Linked DNA regions of Homo sapiens: region 1 is linked to region 2. The links come from fine-mapping of genetic effects on gene expression. Tissue or cell type: whole blood. Region 2 holds a variant in brackets; the other region holds the start of a gene. All regions are shown on one strand. Distances are between the middles of the regions.

Evidence for each region. PIP is the estimated chance that this variant, and not a neighbour inherited with it, causes the effect.
Region 1: it holds the start of GBE1, and the variant in region 2 is fine-mapped to the expression of GBE1 in whole blood (TOPMed, PIP above 0.99).

Annotation. Positions count from the first base shown.
Region 1 is chr3:81,758,105-81,766,250 of GRCh38, forward strand. GBE1 (1,4-alpha-glucan branching enzyme 1) reads right to left here and starts at 3,541. Exons shown (of 16, transcript NM_000158.4): 1 at 3,271-3,541. The coding sequence starts at 3,413. RefSeq lists silencers at 214-508, 3,090-3,169, 3,670-3,769 and enhancers at 2,820-2,989, 3,330-3,619, 3,406-4,014.
Region 2 is chr3:82,156,722-82,164,927 of GRCh38, forward strand. All of the region lies in intron 1 of LINC02008 (long intergenic non-protein coding RNA 2008), which reads left to right. Among named protein-coding and RNA genes, the nearest start is that of LINC02008, 170 kb to the left of the region's middle. The variant T/TA (reference allele first, on the strand shown) is at 4,394.

The DNA.
Region 1 (8,146 bases), 400 kb before region 2:
AAAGAAAGATTAATCACAGTTGCAGCACTTACTTATGCCATATATGCTCAAGCCCATCACTTAGTTTCTTCATCTGCAAAACAGGAAAAATGCCCACCGTCTGTCTACCTCATGGTTTTGTTATGAGGATTACATTAAATACCGGATCTGAAAGTACTTTATAAACATTAAACAGAGGGTATAAAGTAGTATTATTAAATTGTGTTGTTTTGACAATGTTCACAAATGCCAATTCTCTGTTTCACCCACATGGCAAGCTGATGGGCACTGGCCAATGTAACGTATCAGCAGAATGGACTCACTGCTAGGCAAAAGCTGTAAGAAATAGTGCATAGTTCAACATGCTTCTCTTTGCACTGTGACCACCTCTACAGAAGCATGTTTCAAAACAAATCCTTCATAAGCCTAGATTTTTGAGTGACTGCCATGAGGAGGGCCCTCTGGCTGACTCATGCTGACATGTAATATGGGAACAATTAAATGTTGTTTTAAAGCACTAAGATTTTGGAATTATAACAACTAATTGTAGTGTAACAACAAGTAAATAACTAAATAAAAGGTAGAAAAATCAAGTGGAAAATGCTATTTTGGGAGGTCATCAATGAGACAACATGGAGGTGGTCAGTCATGCTAATAATGTACTAATTTTTATTTTATAGCAGAGTAACTCATTAATCCTCTACACTTGATTCAAAATTCTCACAGGTACAGAAGGTGAAAAGAACAACTAATGAAGGTGATATGGTTTGGTTGTGTCCCCACTCAGATCTCATCTTGAATTCCCACGTGTTGTGGGAGGGACCTGATGGGAGGTAACTGAATCATGGGGGCAGGTCTTTCCCACGCTGTTCTCCTGATAGTAAGTAAGTCTCACGAGACCTGATGGTTTTAAAAAGGGGAGTTTCCCTGCACAAGCTCTCTTCTCTTGTCTGCCACCATGTGAGACATGACTTTCACCTTCTGCCATGATTGCGAGGCATCCTCAGCCACTTGGAACTGTAAGTCCAATAAACCTCTTCCTTTTGTAAATTGCCCAGTCTCAGGTATGTCTTTATCAGCAGCATGAAAACGGACTAATACAGAAGGGGAAAAGGCCAAGGTAAAGAAGGGAAGGAACATCCAAAACATCCTAAGGGAACATCCAAAAAATTTCAAATCAAAAGATATCTGTTGGGGAAGGATGAGACAGTCCATCAAAGAGAAATTTCCTTCTTCATCACCTTAATTATATACTGTTGTTTGTACCTCAAATTTTCTTCACTCCTTAGTAAGCATACTTTGCACCTAAGTGTTTGACTGGTTATGTATTTGTGTTAGGCCAAAGACACACAGTCCAAATGGATTATCAGAAATAAATGGAAAATTGGACAAGGAACTAAGACCAGATTGTATGAAGGAAAAATGTTTTATTCTTCAAGTGTTAACAATAGAAGTTACCACTAACAAATGCCAAATTACTATTTGATATGCCTAAATGGAACATGTATGCTAGCAAATGGCCATTACTCAGAACCAAGGACAAAAGTAAAATCCGGGTCAGAGTGAGGCATGAGGGCCCACTGGACGAGACTTTTCACCAAGCACACTGGATTCTCTTCCCTTCTTTATCTTGGCCTTTGTTCCCTTCATTAGTTTTGGCAAACCATGAAAGAAGATTATAAATGCTTCAATCCCAGTGGAGTTGGAAATAAAGTACATGAAAGAAACACTTAATAAAGAATGTTAATCTGTTTGTGTCATTTAAAAAAAAAAGGAAGGGGGTGTAGATAAAACATTTCCACAACTCTTCTTTAATAAATATCTTAAGTGTCCTTTTACAAAGCACACAGGTAAATTAATGTCATGGTTACAAGGACATCAAAAAAAAAATCTAACCACTACCTTTAATCACTATCTTTTGTTCTAAATTTTTTCTGACTATTTCTAAATCAAATCCAACCTTAAACCTATGACGATTATGCACTAAGTTTCTCTGAAAGCATATACTGTAAATTCTGAAAACAATTTCACAAGGCTGCTCCTCATATGGTTTATATAAGAGCATAATCATCTGATTAAGTGAGGGACAGCTCAAGGTGATTATTTTACAGAGGCCTCATTCACTACTATATACAAGCTCAAGAATGAAACTTCACATCCCTTACAATCCCTAGAGCAGTGTTTTATTTATAGGAGTTCCTCAATAAACACTTGCTGATTTGAATGCATTTAATACCTGAAAATGCTAGGACACAAACAATTTGCTGGGCTTTTTTCAAACTCCAAATCAACCCATTTTCATTACTCTCAACGCTCCTTCATGCCAGTTAACTAGTTGGATGTTTTCCATCACTCGAAAAATTGGCCATGTATATTCTGTTGCCAGGATAGTTTCCATTCTGCAGTGTCTCTCCTAAAAGGGGAGAAACTATTAAATCAAAATGGGGTAACCTCACAAGTATAACTATTACAACTTGTATAATAGCTCTTTTACTTCAAACAACAACGACAACAGAAAAAGACCTGTACCTTTTTAGTGGAACTTATGAATAGAATTATTAGCCCAGTAACTAAAGTTGTATGGTACACAATGGTAGAAGACAAGCTAAAACGACATTGGCCTGTAAAAGTTGCTTTCCTGACCTTTCTCCCTCTTCAAGATGGTTAAAGTCACACACGGACAAATGTTGATGTACATTTAACTTCTCAATGTTGATCCAAGGGGAGAAAAAATTGATCAATGTAGGTGTAATCTTCCCCTAAATGAGGAATATTAGCAAGGAAAAAACAAAAGGATATAGTGTCTGCCTGAAGGAATCCTCTTAGATATAAAATCACAACATTTGCTATGAAATAAACTAGAAAGTTTTAAATGCGTAATTACACGTGCCAGGAGTTATGCCCACGTTACTCCACAGGCCCACGCTAGTGGGTGCCAAAGTCAGAAAACCTGCAGCGGCGGTGAGTCACTCCCCAGCAGCACTCTGGGGAATAAGTGTTGGAGCCACAGCACGTACCCTATGGCGCAAGACCGCTGATTAGAACAGAGGGGAAAGGGGATGAGGAAAGAAGTTTCTTCAGCGCCCGCTCCGGGCACCAGCGCTGTCAAACCTGCCACTACGGAAGCCACAGAACCCGGTTACCCGAGTCACCCCGAGCCCCGCCCACTCAGGTTCCTCCCCGCCTGGGGCGGGGTTGGCGCGCGAGGGCCGAGGGGCGGCCCGTGTCCCGAGACGGCTCCTGGGAGGCGGGCTGCCTGTCTAAGTGGGGGTGGTGGGATTCCGGCGGTACCTGCGCTGGAAGTCCACGGCGTAGGGCTTCAAGTACGGGTCGATCTCCAGGAGTCTGGCCAGTTCGGGCACGTCAGCCAGGGCGGCATTGAGCGCCGCCTCGTAGTCCTCGGGCCGAGCCGCGGGAGTCATCGGAGCCGCCATATTCCGCCGCAGTCCAAGTAGCCGAGGCCCGAGAGGTCGAGTGGGGCCTGAGCGGGCGCTGGAGCTCTAGCTGGGACGCGGCGGCTAGGGCGGAGCCGGAGGGCGCCTAGGCGTGTCGAGGCAAGCCGAGGCGAGCCGCGGCGGTCCGGGGCCCTTTATAGCCGGGACGGAAGGCCTCCTGCCCTTTCTCCCCCCGCCAGCGGGGAGGAGCGGATCCCGGGGTGATGCCGGGACGCACGTCCGGAGCGGGTAGGAGGCACCGAGGCCTCTCCGCCCACTCACGCGGCTGGCACCTGGAGGCCGCAGGGACCTGCCCTTTCCTCCCCTTAACGGTTTTTTCCTGCTGGCGGAGGTCATTCTAGGAGGTGGGTCCCAAGCTGACCTCGCTCAGCCTTGGCCTTCCTCACCCTGACATATTCTTGGCTTTTCTTTACCCACTTAAGCACCCACTGACAGCGACCCCTTCAAATTGGACATAAGGGGTTTTTTTGGAAAGGACCGTATTTCTCAAAGTTCTGAGACTTTTGAGGGGCAGTATTTCAAACATATCATGTAAATTCACAGAGAGGGGAACAGTCAAGTGTAGCTAGAGTACTACTGCTGAAAATGTTAATACCTCTTACAACCAGGACTCTCCTAAGTTTGCCAGGTCACGTGAATTTAAAATTAACCAAGACACAGAATCCTGGAATACCGTTGGAATTCTGCTGTTCTGGTACTCTTTTCTGCATTACCAACAGCTAAGAATTTTAGCCATGGGAAGAACTTTTCTCATTCTCCGTAAGGCCAAAAAGGAAAAGGCATTTGCCTGTGTTTATAATTGTTAACAAGCTTTTCAACGATTAAACTACCTTTGATAACACAAATGATATCATTGAATTGGAACTCCACTCTGCCACTTACAGTGATAAGGCAAGAAACCTCTCTTCCTCTTGGCTTGGGAAGCTCCCACTTGGAATTCCCTTCTTTTATTGCCATTAACTGACTAGCTTCTATTTCAATAATTGCTTTTTAGGAATACAGAGTTGGACTCCAAGAGAGATGGACCCACCAAACCCAGGAGGGTCCAAGCTGCTTTACACCTAGAAACTAGAGAGGATTGAGGATATTTTTCTTGTTAAAACCCAGAACTGGAGGATCCTAGGGGTTATGGAGGAGAAACAGTATTAATCAGCCGTGGGCCTTGAATTTTAAAATATTTCAAAGGAAAGTTTTTATAAGGGGTTTCATAGACTTGAAAGATAAGTGGATATGAAGACAGACCTCAGTGTGAAAAAGTGAAGGACTTGAACGACTTTAAGACGTGCCTTGTTTTCCATAAAGATGACAAAAAACTGCTGCAGACATTTGTAAAATATAAAGCACTAAAAAAGGAAGAAAATTAAAAAAAAATAAAAACCCGAAGCAGGACAACTATTAATAACAGACCCACAGATCTACATCTCCAAGCCTAAACTTTTTTCAGAAACCCAGGCTTGTATCACTGCCTGTCTACTGAGATTTCCATTTAGCTGGCTAGGAGACCTAAACAAACTGTCTGCAAAACGTGACCTAGAATCCGTCTTCTCATCCTTCCTGCTGTCACTCTTATGCAGGCCACTGTTTTCCTTCACTTGGACCAGAATGTAGCTCTCTAACTGACTTCCCCTCTTCTACTCTTTCTCACCTCTACTCCATTCTCTGTACCAGTGTTTCTCACACTTTAATGTGCATATGAATCACCTAGGGATCTTAATTGAGTTCCGATGTGGTGCTTCAGATTGCATTTTTAACAAGCTCAGAAGTGATTCTGATGCTGGTGGTTGGGGACACAGTTTGGTGAGACTCTACACTGAGTAAATCAGACGATGTCATTTAGCAACTTAAATAGCATAGTATTTCACTTAGGGTAAAATAGAAACAGCTTATCATTCTCTAACAAGGCTTGTATAATCTGGACCCTGACTACCTTTCCAGCCACTTTTCTCATCATTTTCCAGTTTTACTATGCTCTAGTCACACTGACTTTCCTGGAACTCAGTGAATTTGTTGTATAATAGCCTCTAAGATTATTTGCTTGCTGTTCTCTCTGTTGGAAATTTTCAGGGAGCTGAGCTCTACTTGCTTAATTTTTTCCAAGCCTTCATTCCAGCCTCAGCAAAAATGTCACCTCATACCTGAGAAACTTCTGATTATAGACTCCTCAGTGTCTTCTGTATAACTTCAATCTCTTCTATGCAACAGTTAACAGAATCTAGGTGTTTGTTTTTCTCCTATTTATTGACCTTTCCCTTTAGAACCTAAGCTCCCCACGAGCACGATCCTAGCGTACATATCTGCCTACCTAGGTGGTTCACCATTGAGCACATATTTATTGAAGTCCCATGTGCCGGCCATTTTCCCACGTACTGTGGATAAATGATAAGACAAGTCCCAGTTGTCATACTCTATTGGGGGTAGGAGGGAGAGGAGACACAATTACCAGTGAAATACATAAAATAATACAAAACAATGTCAGATAGTGGTAAGTGCATTGTCGAGAATTAAAACTGAGCAAATATCTGTGTTAGTTCCGGTCGTCAAGAAAGGCCGTTCAGAACTGACATTTAAGCTGAAGTGTGATGACAAGAAGAAATGAGCCATGAGAGGAAGAGCATTCCAGAATGGCAGAGTTCGTGCAATGGAGGAATTGAATTGGTCTTTTAAAAAAAAAAAAAAATCTAGCATACCCGGTGTGTAATGAGGAGTGGCAGGAATTGTGGTGCAAGAGCTAGGCAGCTGTTCGTTCATATAGGCCCTTTAATGTCCATTTAAGGGATGCTATTGGAGAGTTTTCAGCAGAACACTGATATGATATGGTTTAATTATTAAAATATTCTATGTGGCAAATGAATTATAAGGATACAAGAATGGCAATAGGGGTGCCATTCTTGTGGGAGACAAGGGAGACAATTAGGAGGTGATTAACATTGCCTAGGCATGAAATGATGATGGCTTGGTCTGGGGTAGCAGATAAAATGATGAAATAAAGATTTGGGATGCATGATATAATGAATGCCTAAACTATTATGAAGTCATTTAGTGTCTGTATTAGTTACCTAGGGCTGTAGTGATTAAGTACCACACACTAGGTAATTTAAGCAACAAAAATTTGTCACCTTACCCTAGTTCTAGGGGCTAAAAATCAAGGTGTCCACAGGTTTGGTTCTTTCTGGGGGCTCTGAAGGAGAATTATTCCATGCCTCTCTCCTAGCTTCTGGTGATGGCCAGCAATCTTTGGCATTTCTTGGCTTATAGTTGCATCATTTGGATCTCTGCCTCCATTGTGACATGGCATTTTCCTGTGTCTCTGTCTCTTCACATAGTGTTCTTTTTATTAGGTCACCAGCCTTATTGAATGAAGGACACACCCTATTTCAGTATGACCTCATCTTAACTAATTATATCTGCAATTATTATATTTCCAAATAAGGTCATATTCTGAGGTAATGTTAGGTTAAGACTTCAGTGTATCTTTTTGTGGAGAAATACAATTCAACCCATAACATTTTTGACACACCAAAACAGAGAAAATATTTGAGAAATAGAGTTTATAAGATTTGGTGACTGATTGGATATGAAAGTGAAAAGGGAATTAAAGATTGAACTTCTGAGCCTGGGGGAATTCTGTCTAGCAAAAATAAAGAAGGCCTTGAAAGAGGGAGAACTAAGTTCAAGGTGTCAGCTCCTGGATACCCAAGTCAATATGGCAGCTGGAAATGTAATTCTGGTGCCTAATAGATCATGTAGGAATGAAGATAACAATTAGAGAATGATCCATATGCGTTTACTAGCTAACGGTGGCAAATAGGAGATCCTCAATAAATATTTTGAAACCTTTCTTTCTTGGTATTTGAGTCTCATGTCACATGTTTGCTTTTCAATAGTTTGCATTACAAAGCCAAAGAGTTACTGATAATGTGCTACATCACAGTTGAACCTTAAAAACATAGCAAGTGAAAGAAACCACTCACAAAAGACCACATATTATATGATTCCATGTATATGGAATGTTCAGAATATGCAAATCTACAGAGAAAGAAAGCAGATTTTTAGCTTCCTAGGGCTGGAGGGCAGGGGAAACGAAGAGTGAGTGCAAGTGGATATGCGATTTCTTCTTGGTACACATTTTCTAAAATTAGTTGTGGTTATGGTTTCATGGCTCTGTGGATATACTAAAAACTAATTGTACACTTTAAATGGATGAATTGTATGGTATGTGAATTATGTCTCAAAGCTATTTTTAAAAAGATTCTGAAGGATAAAATAATACTAAATATGCTTTTTAAAAGGCAAATGATTTATACCAACTAAAGATAAACTAGACTATATAAATATACCTTTTAAAATTACATATCCCCCTCGTTGAAAATCATTAGCAATGAAAAAGAAAATCAGAGAGCAGAAAGAAAAAAGAAGTAACTTTTTTTTTTTTTGAGACAGGGTCTAGCACTGTCCCCCGGGCTGGAGTGCAATGGCGTGACCTCGGCTCACTGCAACCTCTGCCTCCTGGGTTCACGCGATTCTCCTGTCTCAGCCTCCCGAGTAGCTGGGATTTCAGGTGCACACCACCACACCCTGCTAATCTTTTGTATTTTTAGTAAAGATGGGGTTTCACTATGTTGGCCAGACTAGTCTCAAATTCCTGACCTAGTGATCTGCTGGCCTTGGCCTCCCAGAGTGCTGGGATTACAGGTGTGAGCCACTGTGACCAG
Region 2 (8,206 bases):
GCAGAAAGAGAGAATAAAAGGAGTAGAAGTTATTAGATCTCATACATAGAAGAAAATAAGTCTATGCAGTAATTCCTTTCCCAAAAATTTACTAGTTAAATATTGGAAACTAGTATTATGCTTGTGAAGGCTCTACCATTTCTCAGTCCTCTTATTATCTCTTGAAAGCTATGTCCAGATTTGGAATGTGTGTATGCTATGTGAAGAGTTGGCACTTGGTTCTCCTTCCTCCTTTTGTCTCTCTCTCTCTCTTCTGCCCTCCCTTTCCTCCTTTATTCTTTGTTTCCTTTTCTACATTAAGCCTATTGAATAAGAAACAAGGACTTTCCTCAATCTTGAAGGTGATTTACTGAGGGCTCCTTTGCACATCAGAAGTGAGCATTTCTTATCACTCATTTATAGCATGTACTTTAAATTTACATTAATAACTTGGAATCTATACTAATTGAAAAAAAGAAAGCAAATATTGGTAACAATTTATTTAAGATAAATATTTAAAAACTGGAAAGTCTTTCTTTTGTGACCAGACTAAGCTAAGTAGTAAAATAAGAAAGGTTCTTACCAATATTTAATATCAAAACCAGTTCTCTGCTTTAAAACATAATTTTAGATAAGCTATATTCTCTTGTATTTTTTGGCTAAACCAGAGATACCTGGTCCATTTTGCTAAGTCATTACACAATCACTACATTATGAAATATGAAGACATTTTTAAAATAGATATTAAAATTAAAAGAAGAAGTTTTGAAGGTAATAAACAGAAAGAAAAGTGGAAAAGATCAACTTTACAAACATACACAGCATGGCAACAATAATACTTGCATATTCCAAGCAGCAGTTGGATACATGTAATTCATATTTTTTGGAAGAAATAAATTTGAAATGTTCAATAATATTTTACCATAATAACCAGACTAAAAGACTGTTGAAACCACCTTTGTAAAAATTATAACAATGAGAGAACTCTAACCCGACTCCATCTTGTTTCTGACCTCAAAAGCTAACTACCTTTACTCATCCTTGGGCACAGACCAATCTAACTGTGGGAAGAATTTAGTTTATAGTTTAACGTTGAAGCAGGGATGATAACAACTCCTCCCAAAACTGACTCCCTCCAGGGACTAAAACCACCTTTGTAAGACTAATGAAAGGCCACAAGGATAGGATTACGAGAGGGGCCTGAGTTCTGCTAAGATGTAGGTATAGTTAAATAGCGACCCCTTGTTCCTTAGCTTGCTTTTCTATAATCTCTTACTTTTCAGGAGTCATGTAGCTGGAGGTCACAAGATTTCTAACTTTCTAATTGCTCCTGTGGAGAACATCGCTATTGTAAAACCTAAGATTGAGCTTTGAGATATATTCCAGAATTTTGCATTCTGGCAACTGATTGACTTAACCCGGACGGGACCCATGACTCATACCAAGGAACTGATTCACCAGTTCTGTGACCCCCCCAACCCAGAAACTGACTCAGTATGCAAAGTCAGTTTGGACACTTCGATGATTTCATCCCCAGTCAATCAGCACACATTTCCCATCCCCCTGCCCTCCAAATTTTCCTTAAAAAACCCTAACCTCTGAGCTCTTGGGGAGGTGGATTTGTGAAAAATCTCCCACCATCCACCTCGGTTGGCCCTACAATTCTTGAACTCTTTCTCTTACTGAAACTCCTGTTGTTCCCAGTGTTTGGATTTTCTGAGCAGTGGGCAAGAAGAACCTGTTGGGCTGTAACTCTAGATGTACCTACCAATTTTACATCTGGGATGCTATCCTAAGGTAATTAGAGATATTCAATATATAGATAATAAATGACCACAATTATTTAATAATTTCTCACCCTTCCTGAAATTGACATATTGCCAGGCATTGACTACATACTTCTTCTAGATCATTTTCTTCAATATTTACAATCTTTGCAATGCCCCTGGTCTCTTCTGGTTTCACAGAGCAAAAAATTGCCCATAAAATTAGAGACACAGAAGCTGATACAGAGGATCACAACTTATCAGTGAGGGAGGTGTTTCCCCACACAAGCTCTCTCTTTGCCTGCTGCCATCCATGTAAAACATGATTTGCTCCTCCTTGCCTTCCACCATGATTGTGAGGCCTCCCCAGCCATGTGGAACTGTGAATCCATTAAACCTCTTCCCTGTATCAATTACCCAATCTCAGGTATGTCTTTACTGGCAGTGTGAAAATGGACTAAAACAATACCCATATGTCTAATGATGCATATTTCTAAACAGTGGAATTATAGGTGATCTTCTTCTTGTTTTGTTATTTTTCTGCATTTGTGAATATTTCAACAATGCATATGTATGGTTTGTGTGCTAACAGTTAAAAATCATGTTAAAATAGCAATAATAAAAACAAAAACAAAGGGGAACAGAGTCTTAGAATTTAGAACATAAGCAATATATGAGCAAGCAATCCCAGAAGAAAAGGTTGATAAATCTGCATTAAAACTTCTATCATTTTATTAGCGATCAAAGACATAACATATTTTACTATTTAGACTATTTACATTTCCTAAAATTTCAGATTTCAATATTAATAATTAATCCTAAGGAAATTTGTCCTTATTCTATACATTTTATCTCCTTATTACCCACCATTTTCATATAATAATAATGATGGTTAATATTTGAGGGGAGTTCTGTTCATGTAGGAGCAGATGGTGTAACATGCCCAGCTTCTACAATATCTCCTTTTCCTCAGAGTTTCTATGGTTCATATGCTCAAAAGTGTATGTCATCCAGGTAGAAAATATAATAGACATGGAAAGATAAAGGTTTTTATTTTTATTTTTTTAAATTTGTCACCTTGGAAGAGAAAATGACTCTTTATTTTGTAACTCAGACAGGAGGCAAACAGCACATGGCATTGCTGACTGAGCTGCAAAATCAAAATTGACAAATCCTGGAGGAGAAGAAACTTACTATTGCAAAGTCAGGCATCACTGTGCATGCTGCCTGGGCTTCCCTGGTGTCCTCCTGCTGCGGTTGAGCAGCCCTAAGGTCCAGGTGACATTAGTCTGGCTTTTCAGACAAGTCAAAAGGAAAAAAAAAATAATTTTATCATGAGGAAATAAAAGGCTTGGCACAGAATACCAGCCGCTTTTGCTGCTCTCATTATGATAAAGGGTCAGAGAGAAAGGTTGTTGATAAAACTCAACATGGGGCTTGAAAAAAGAACTGGATTTCTTTTTACCACCAGTCTTCTTAAAACTAAAGATAACTCAAGAGTTAATAGCAAAGAGTCACTGATGACGAAAGTGCTGTTAAAATGTTATGCTCATACATCACTGGTGGCGGTGACATTCAGTACAACTCTTGGAAAATGTTTTGACAAAAGCTATTGAGAATCATATTTATGCTTTTGCATTTTGATATGTATACATTGTTGTTTACACATATCCAGACACTCATGTTGGTGTTATACACTAGGATAATCGAAGCTAACTAAACATATATTGATTTAGGAATATTTATTCAATGGTTAACAAAATGGCATATCAACTTGGTTGTAAATGGCATATCAACTTGATGGACAATTATGCAACCATCAATAGGGCCAGTTAGGTAGAATATAAAGAAACACAGAAAATGCTTAGTAATGTTGCTTGGCAAAAGCAATATATAGATATCTATGTATACAGTAGTTAAAATTTGGCCTGGTGCAGTGGTGTATACCAGTAATCCCAGCACTTTGGGAGGCCAAGGCAGTACCATCCTGGGCAACATAGGGAGACCCTGTCTCTATAAAAAAAAAGCAAACAGGCAAACAAAGCAAAACAAACGAGCCAGTTGTAGTGGCATGCACCTGTGGTCCCAACTGCTCAGGAGGCTGAAGTGGAAGGATTGCTTGAATGTGGAGGGTCAGGGCTGCAGTGAGCCATAATCACACCACTGCACTCCAGCCTGGATGAAAGAGCAAAACCCTATCTCAATTAAAAAAAAAAAAAAGAATTGTTATGAAAACTATATATATTCAAAGAAAAAGACAAAGAAATAGGCAAGTAAATATAATTTTGCTAAAGAAATGCATTAATTCTAATTTGATTGCAATTCTTCTATCTTTAAACTTTTATCCCAAATGAATTAATTAATGCAAGAACAGGAAACTCAATACCACATGTTCTCGCTTATAAATGGGAACTAAACATCAGGTACTTATGGACATAAAGATGGAAACAATAGACACTGGAGACTACTAGAGGAGCAAGGAAGGGAGGGGCCGAGGGGTGGAAAACTATCTATTTGTTGGGTACTATGCTCAGTACCTGGGTGATGGGTTCATTGCACCCCCAAGCTTCAGCATCATGCAATATACCCTGGTGACAAACCTGCACATGCATCCCCTGAATCTAAAACAAAAGTTGAAAAATAAAAAT[T/TA]AAAAAAAATAATACAACTGTTATGATGCCATACATTGTTTATTAAAAATCTTAAAAATAATAAAAATAATTGAATATTTAATTTTTGTATGCCTGAAAACTAGCATTTAGGTTAATCTTCAGTAAGCATTTAATGAATGACTAATTTTAGAATCTGATTTTGTAAATTATGTGATAATCAACACTAAAGAAATATGCATATAATTGCTCCTGACCTGTATTAAATTTCCTCTTACTGATGTGACATGCACAGATTTAAGGTAAAAGGGGTAACTCAACACTGAAGCAAATAGGTCTCACAATTAAGCTAATGATCTCTAATGTTTCACAGAGTTTCTCAAGTTAACACATGACATAATGGGAAATGGGAACGTTGGTAAGTTATGCTGTGGTACATGGAGGAAGATTGAGTCTCAGGTCAGAACTGAGAGGAGAGGGTTGAGGAGAAACACCATTTGCCATGTATGCCCTGGGTTCCCAGCAAGGGTCCTAGGTGCTATGAAGACTTACAGTTCAGCACACTTGAAACCTGTTAAGGACCTCTGCTCTGAAACAGGGTCAGGAAGTAAGTAGCATAAAACCTTAATGGCAAATTTGGTGGGACAATATGTAAGAGTGTGTGTGTGTGTGTGTATGTGTGTGTGTGACAGAGAAAGAAACAGAGACAGAGAGAGTGCACAAATGCACTGGAATTGCATGAATTGGGGCTCACAGAAATCCATCTTTCTGCTGTGTCCTCCCATTATTGTCTAAATTTGGTTTCCATAGATAATTGTGTAAAGAGTACCTGCTCCTCCACCTGCAAATCTCTGTAGGGTGCACCAATTTGCCCTATGAAGCTGAAAGCAAAGAAATAGGCAACCACTAGTTACTGAGGTAACACATTTACAGTCTTATATTTTTTCCTTTTTCCATTCATTTCTTAATAAAGTTGTCTGCAGTTAGGAAACAGTTGTTGAGATTTAAATCTCCCATAGTCATAGAAGAGTTTATGACCCTTTGCCTATTAGTGAACAGAGATGATTTATTGGGAGAAAAAAAATGCTCTAGGAATCCTCCAAATGTGTAAAATAATAATTAGAAAGAACAACAACTGACCTTACTTAAAATAGCATAAAGAAGAGGAAAAAGCAGTAACACAGTATTCTATAAATTTACAGAAGCATCAAACCAAGATTTTATCCCATCTCTTTGCCACTTACTGCATAAAATTAAGAGAATAATTAATTATGGGTGTCTGAAAATAAGGTATTAATTTCAAATTGTTTACATGTAAACATAATGTTCTCACTTTCTCTCTCTTTGATTTTTTTATTTCATTGCTAAATTAAGAACATCACTTAAAAAGATCTGGTGCATCATAACAGAAGCTGGGAAATTTATTAACCACTCATTTCATCAATTTCCTCCAGCATATAAATTGCTATTCAGGAGTATTCAAGCCTTTTTAACACTAGTGAGTTAGAAAAGTTATTGCTGTGGATCCCCCATTATAGCACGGAATAATAATTTTTGAACTGTGAGGTTCAGAATTTCTGCATAGTTTTAATCTAGTCTTCATTTTTATATATACTTCAGTTATTAAAAAATCAACATTACTCTTAAAAGTATTTACCAAATATTAACAATTTGAAATTACTGACATATTGTTTTATTTGCACCAAACTTTTTCTCTTACCATCCTTACTTTGTTGAATGCGTCCTGTGATTATTAAGTAGCAAAAATGGTTACCAGTTGCAACTAATCATCAGAAGATTTCCTAGGTTCTATGCAATAGAAAAAAACCTCAAAATACATTGGATGTGAAGGTGGTGGTATTGTTTGAATGTGGTCCCTTCAAAATTCAGGTGTTGCCAATGTGATGATTTTAAGAAGCTGGGCCTTTGTAAGGTAATTAGGCCATGAGGGCTTACTGGGATTAAAGCTCTTTCAAAGGAAGCTTCACACAGCCTTTGGCTACCTTGCCCTCTGTCTTATGCCATGTGAGGATGTAGCAAGAAGGCCCTAAGCAGACCAATGCCAATGCCTTAGTCTTGAGCTTCCAGTCTCCAGAGTTGTAACAAATAAATTTCTTTTATTTGTAAATTACTCAGTCTGTGGTATTTTGTTGTAGCAGCACAAACAGACTAGGTGGCAATATTACTGTAACTGTCATCCATAACCTCCAATTCCGAATGTCTGTGTTCATGAAAATAGCCTTTATTATTCTTATTATTAAAATTTATAATAAATATGTACTATAAATTTGAATTTATTGAATAAATTTATAGCAATAAAATACTCTTCTTAAAAATATCTTTAAAATAATATGGTAGTTTACTATAATATTTCATTTATATAGATGATTTCTGCAACTAACGTACTCCACAAGTGATATAGATGTTTCTGGGAACAATTTTGTATTCCATGTCTTCTGACGGTAGTGCAACTGCCTTTCTGAAAGTTTGTGCATGGTAGATAGAATAAAATCTCCAAAATAAACTTTATCAGGTAAATTTTAAGAAGTTATTTGGTGTGACAAGAAAGCACCTGCCTTTCACCTGTGAGGAGTACAGTTGGTTGACACCTTCCAGCCATAGCATCTTTGGGGCCACCTGCAGCATTTGTACCAAGGCTGACCTCTTCTCAGTGTGCCCCAGACAATGACTGAGCCTAGGATGGCCTATGGCGGGACTCAGAGATCCCCTTTGGGTTGGTTAAAATTTTTTCGAATTTGCCCAATCTTGCTTCCTTTCCCTTTTATCTTCACAGGCATTGATCTTCAGCCCCAACTTCAAAACCACTATACCTGTCTGTGTATTTGCTTCCTATAGAACCCAAAGTTTCCAATTTAGATACATGTTTATGCACACATTTTTATTATTTCAAGATATAAAAAGTTATTGTGCAAGTTAACATATGAGCAAAGTTCTTAGTATCTCCTTTAAGTTCCTGTGCTGGAGGCAGCCATTTTAAGACCTTTAAACACTTTAATTTTAGCAGTTCACATTTTGTCCACTAGGATAAGAAATCTGTCAAGAAAATCAATTTATTTTAGTCAACTCTAAGTTAGTTACAGCTACTGTTTGTACTTGGAAATATATACATATTAAAATGTGACTTTTTAATTTTTGACAGATTTTAATAAAATACATCATGATTCAAGAAACATTTTTTCTTTACAAAGAAAATTATGTAAAATTAAGAAGATGAGCAAAATATTATCAATTTTATAATGAGGAATTCACGTAACAAATTTAATAGTAGGATTTTAATTTTCTTGTTTATTGTTTATTCTTTCTTCACTTATTTATTTATTTTACATATTCTGGACTTCAAATAACTTGAAATGTCTCATGGATAGTGCCTATGCTTGATTGTCCTTCAATCCAAAAGCTTAGAAAATACCTTTTCTTATAGAATCTATTTCTGACGGTTTTGATTGAACTATTTAGGTCTCAGACCAGTTGGTCTGATGAGGCATCTTAGCCACATTATAATTATACACCTATAATCATGTGGTTTAAAGAGTAAATTCAGCAGCCTCTGAATTCTGATTGAGTTTGTTCAGGTGAATGAGGCTCCTCCTCTCCACCTCTCCAGGCTTAAACTTGGACATGTTTTACATGTAGGGCAACTGCTTGGCTCTTGCTATTTTGTGGCTCCCAGTTTACAGCAGTCTGCACGAGGTTAATTGGAACAAATTCCTTCTCCCTACTCTTTTCTTTATGTGAGAATATAATCAGAATGACTATTTACATAGTAATTTACTTTCCACAGTATCCAACTTCCTAAATTCAAATCTATATCTGTCATTATAAGTACAAACATCA